Regions from separate parts of the Homo sapiens genome. Here region 2 is linked to region 1. Evidence: fine-mapped expression QTL. A gene starts in region 1. The other region holds a variant in brackets. All regions are shown on one strand. Distances are from middle to middle.

Region 1 (2,917 bases):
TCTCCAGAGTTAGCCGATGGGCACAACGGCAGTTGAAAGAGACCATGTTACACAAGTCATTCAGGTTCTGGCCAACATCTGCTTTGAACAGGTCGCATTCCCAGGAGCTCCAGGCTCCCTTACCCCAGGGAAATGCTGGGGTGGTGGCTTGTCTTACAGAAGTGGTAGCCAAGGGGACCAGAAGGCACACCCGGTGCTAAAACATGCCTAAAACTTCCTCTAATGTTTACAGCTCTTCCAATGACATTTGGGGAACTAAAGTATGGATAGCCTCTTCATTGCTAGAACCGCTATAATATGATAAGTTAAGAATTTGATTTAATATTTATAAAGAACTTAGAAAGAGCCCAGCGCATAGTAAGGGCTATGTAAGTGTTTGGTAAATAAAAAAAGGCACCTCCCAGATTGGCTGGGTGAAGTCTCAATCTGGTGAGAAGGGAGAGAATCAAAATACACAACAGTCTATTTTTCACTTTGACAAAAGATTTAGAAATTACAGTGCTCTGTATTTATTTTGCACCCAAGTGCACACTAAGTAGTCTCTGGTGCAGGACTGAAATTCTACTCATGGTTCAGAAGTCACTGTGCACAACTCAATGAAAGCGTTTTAAGTTTCAAGAGATGATTCCTTTCTCTTTTCTCTTTCCAAGTAACGATGACTAAAAATGACAGAATCTAAAAATCTCAAAGCACTTCTTGTGGGTACATTCCAAAGCTAAAACTGTGAGAATTAATAGGGCCAGATTCACTTGAAGAGACGTAAGGGTTCAAATTACAGAGAACTTAAAAGACGCAACGTATTAAGGTCTTTTACTACAGATCCGCTGACAACAGGTTAAACGATTCCATCCACCCCACTCTGGCGGCTGCCCCCTCCCCGACCCTCGCAGGTGACCTGCACCCACTTTCGACCTCAGATAGGGTCTCCCTGCTCGGCGTTCCCAGTTCCTCCAGGCTCGGCGGCTGCGTGGGGGTTAACAAGGTCCAGCCACCGACGCCCCTTGGGCGTTTAGGAATCTCGAGGCAGGATCTGAATTCACCTCGTGGAAACAAAGACCACAAACTCTCCGGGAGCCGGGGGCTGGGCGGAGGTACGGCTTTTTCCGAGGACAGGCAGCGGCCGAGGCCCGGGCAGCCCTCGCCCCGCCCCGTCTCCTCCCGCCCCGGGCCGCCGTCGGAGTCCCGGGCGCGCGGACCCTCCCGCCGGCCCCGCACCTACCTGGCCCCGCGGTGCTGCTCCCGGCGCGGCGGGCGCGGAGCCGAACGCACTGCGCTTCCTCCTTCCCGGCAGGGCCGCCGGGCGCCGGCGTTTCCTCCTTGACGCGTCACGGCCGCTGGCGGCTCCTCCCGCGGAGCGCGCGGGAGGCCGAGGACAGCCGGGGAAGGCGCCGGATCCCAGCAGAGCGGCGCGAGCGGCGGGCCGGGGGCAGCCCGTGCGGGGAGGGGCTGCAGGCTGCGTCCCGCTCAGGCCTCCGAGGAAACCCGCGCTCCTCTCTCTTCCCCGAGGACCCCCGCGAAAGGCCGGGCCACGGTGCACCGTCTGCCCCCGTCACGCGCTGTGCAAAGTTCAAGAGGACACAGTGGGTCCTGTCTGGAGTCACAGACTCTGGTGTTTCCCTCTGCTCCGCCCGCAGTGGCCGCTACCCTGGGGCCCAAGACCGGCGCGGGCCAGAGCGCCGGGGCCCAACAGAGATGACCTGGTGTGTGCAGGGATCAGGACCCCCCGGGTGGGCCCGTGGTGTTGGGGGGGTTGGCTTGGTGTAAACTGGAAACTCAGAGGAGTGAATTAAATATCCAAATAATTGAGAACAACTGTGATTCATTTAGCATTATTTGGACAGTTTTCCACTTTTGTCATTAGCAGAGTTACGGCCCTTGTGTTTATAAACAGTCGAGAACTTTCACAAATTGGCAGATCCTGTGTGCAGAGAAATTTCCTTTCCACACATCTTTTTAGATCTACTGACTCTTTTTTTTATTCCCATTAATCTCCAAGTCAGCTGAGTGCACACTTTACAGCTCCTTATTACTCATTCTTGAATTACAGAAGCTGCGTTTTAGATCTGTTTATCTCTTTTAACAGATAGAGAAGCTGAGTGGAGAACTAAGAATTACATGGTTCAATGGATGTGGAGTCAAGTGGTTAAGATTTTGAAGTAGAGTGGGTTGTTTTCTTCGTCCCACAACACTACTGTAATTTAGGTCTTATCAGATATCACTTGAAGATAGACTCAGACAAGTACTTAAAGATTCCCATGTGCATATCATGCCTTAGATTTTGAGACAATGATTTGTACTTTAGATCATATGATTCCAGAGAATTTGCCACAAATCTATGAACAAATAAACTGCCAAAGGTTATTAGAGGAACTGGGATCTATGTGTGACTTCCCTAAATTCAGAAGACATTTCCTCATGTTTTAAAATGATATTCAAAGATTTAGCCCCACAAGTATGGGTTAGGACATTCATTTTTAATGTCAATAACCACAATGTGGCCTCTCTTTAAAAAGTGGATTGTGAATCCAAATACTTTTTGTACTTCAGTAATCCTACAGAACTTTCTAAACAGTAGTTTTCAGAAATGAATATAAGAATGCAGTAGATACAAAACAATACATTGCCGGTGGTCCTTTATATGTTTTACTGTGGTCCACAAAGCAATCCACATACATTAGAGGAGTTCTTCCCTTGTAACAAAATCAACAAGTGATGAGTGTATCTCTTAATTAAAGCCATATTCACAGTGCTGAAGATTTCTCAGACAAAAGGAAGTTCTGTGTCAATAAACTCCAAGTGGAATAACATCATTCTCACTTTAGAGACAAATACCTGGCTATCACCACATCTTGACTTTTTAAAAAAATAAACATCTGGGAACCATTACATTTCTAGATAAATTTGTCCTATTGTGAAG
Region 2 (2,917 bases), 590 kb before region 1:
CTTCATTTGCACCAGTTATTACAAGTTTGCTTAAATATAGCACAATGTATTGGGTAATACACTAGTTTAAGACTAGAAAAACAAGGCCGGGCGCGGTGGCTCACACCTGTAATCCCAGCACTTTGGGAGGCTGAGGCGGGCTGATCACCTAAGGTCAGGAGTTCAAGACCAGCCTGACCAACATGGAGAAACCCCGTCTCTACTAAAAATACAAAATTAACTAGGTGTGGTGGCGCATGCCTGTAATCCCAGCTACTCAGGAGGATGAGGCAGGAGAATCGCTTGAACCCGAGCAACAAGAGCAAGCTTTATCTCACAAAAACAAACAAAAACAACTAGAGAAACAAGTTTCTGGATCACCGCCTATCAGTTATCTGACCTTAGAACTGGCCATTATTTATTCTGATCCTTAGTTTCCCTATCAAGTTGATTGCAGATGTTCAGCTGTAAAAACTGTTCTTCCACTCGTGGGCTGCACAAAAACTTATGGTAGGCTTCTGTTCACCCATGTTTTAGAATATAAGGAACCTTTATTATCTAGTAGTTAGTGAAGTTAGAGTTGTTTCTCATGCTCACAGTTATTTAGTGATATTTGGTATCAAAACACAGTGCTCTTTAAAATGTTTCATTTCCTCTGATATTCCTAGTTAGCGTATAATTTACTTAACTAGAATATCCTATTCTGTAATTATTTTACAAATGGGAATTCACCTTATAACAAAAACTGCCAGCTCCTCTTCTTCCCCTGCCTTGCCTTTTTTCCTGCCTTACTGGTTTGTAGTAGTATCTCAGCCTCTTAAATAATGATAATTTTTTTAAATGAAGAATACTTAAATTATTTTATGATGATTTAGGTCAGTCAACACAGCATTTCCTCCTTATCCATACATTTATTTTATTTTATTTATTTTTGACACAGAGTCTCATTCTGTCACCCAGGCTGGAGCGCAGTGGCGCAATCTCAGCTCACTGCAGCTTCCGCTTCCTGGGTTCAAGCGATTCCTGTGCCTCAGCCTCCCAAGTAGCTGGGACTACAGGCATGCACCGCCATGCCCGGCTAATATTTGTATTTCATGGGGTTTCACCATGTTGGCCAGGCTGGTCTCAAATTCCTGACCTCAAGTGATCGATGTGCCTCGGCTTCCC[A/G]AGGTGCTGGGATTATAGGTGTGAGCCACTGCGCCCAGCCCACACATATATTTTCAAGTGATAAAGATTATTTTTGATTGTATCTGTTGGTGAGCCGTGCAATTTTAGTAACTGATATACAGATCTTAAATATCATTGTGAACCTTTATTAAAGTGGTATTTTAAATAGCTGCAGATAATATTTTTATACTATCTGCCTTCTAGTTCTACCAGTAATAAAATGGAAAGGGGTTTGGTTCACAGAAAACTAAACTGAAATACTGAACATCAGATGCCTGGCACACAGTAGGCAATGAGTAAATTTGTATGTATTGTATGAATAAGTTGTATGGATTGTGCGAATGAATTGTAGAAATTGTATAGCAAGGTGATTTGTCAAAGTCGCTTTTTAAAGGGTTTAATACAGTATCTGGTACGTGAAAGATGCTCAGTTAGTGATAGTGTTAAAAATGTATAGGCCAGTAGTTGTTTATCATACCCCAATTTAGCACAGTTTGTTCAGTTTCTCAGATACACCTATATGGTAGAACGGTTAATAAACCAGAATCTGTAGTTAGATTACCTAATATTGAAACCTGATTAGCCATACGTCCAAGCCATGCAGCCTTTGGACAAGTTGTTCAACCTCTCTTCCTCAATTTTCCAGTCTTTAAAATGAAGATATAATAGTACACACCTCATAGGATTGTTGTCAAACATAAATACATTAGTTGCATGTAAAGTGTAATAGTCTATGTAAAGTTTAGTATATGTAAAGTGTAGTAGTACTTGGCACACATTTGAATACCTTTTTTCCAAATTTCAGGCAGATTTAGTCAATTAGCCAGATTCCCCAATATATTAATTAATTATTATTTTTTTTTTTTTTTAAGAGATGGAGTCTCACTCTGTCGCTGAGGCTGGAGGGTGGTGGTGTGATTTTGGCTCACTGCAACCTCCGCCTCCCAGGTTCAAGTGATTCTCCTGCCTCAGCCGTCCGAGTAGCTGTGGTTATAGGCGCGCACCACCAGCACGCCTGGCTAATTTTTGTGTTTTTAGTAGAGACGATGTTTCACCACGTTGGCCAGACTGGTCTGGAAGTCCTGACCTCAGGTGATCCGCCCACCTTGGCCTCCCCAAGTGCTGGGATTACAGGCATGAGCCACTGTGCTCAGCCAATTAAATTTAAGGGTCTTCTATTACGGGTAGGATTTGTCTAATTTATCTGATACCTTATAGTATAAATAGTGAAAGGGAAAATTTCCCATTAAATTGAGCATGTGTATTTTATAGGGCCTTGTATAGTCATAAATAGAAAAATGAGTTAAATATCAATGCACAAACATATTTAAGAAGTTATAGTTCTGGTCTGATAATCTCCCTGGGGTAATCACAAGGTTGGTGCATTGAGGTGTTTTTCCTCCTGTCCCCAAACATCTGCCGTACATTTTGTGACTTCATTATAGCATACACATTATTCTGTTGTGATTTTTTTTTTTTGGTGGGAGGACAGGGTCTTGTTCTTGTGCCCAGGCTGGATTGTAGTGGAGTCTAGTGGTTATAGCTCACTGTAACCTTTAACTCTTGGGCTCAAGGGACCCTCCCACCTCAACCCCCTGCCCCACATAGCTAGGACTGTAGGCATACACCACCATGCCCAAGCTGATTTAAATTTTTTTTTTTTTTTTTTTTTTTTTTTAAGAGATGGGGTCTTTGTTGCCCAGGCTGATCTCAGACTCCTTGCCTCAAGTGATCCTCCTGCGTTGGCCTCCCAAAGCACTAGGATTACAGG

What was found. PIP is the estimated chance that this variant, and not a neighbour inherited with it, causes the effect.
Region 2: its variant is the best candidate, but not a certain one, in a credible set for the expression of SGK3 in whole blood (TOPMed, PIP 0.73).

What each region holds. Positions count from the first base shown.
Region 1 is chr8:66,711,136-66,714,052 of GRCh38, reverse strand. It overlaps SGK3 (serum/glucocorticoid regulated kinase family member 3), which reads right to left and starts at 1,272. Exons shown (of 17, transcript NM_001033578.3): 1 at 1,220-1,272. All of the region lies in intron 3 of C8orf44-SGK3 (C8orf44-SGK3 readthrough), which reads right to left. RefSeq lists a silencer at 1,094-1,563.
Region 2 is chr8:67,302,814-67,305,730 of GRCh38, reverse strand. All of the region lies in intron 1 of ARFGEF1 (ARF guanine nucleotide exchange factor 1), which reads left to right. Among named protein-coding and RNA genes, the nearest start is that of ARFGEF1, 40 kb to the left of the region's middle. The variant A/G (reference allele first, on the strand shown) is at 1,147.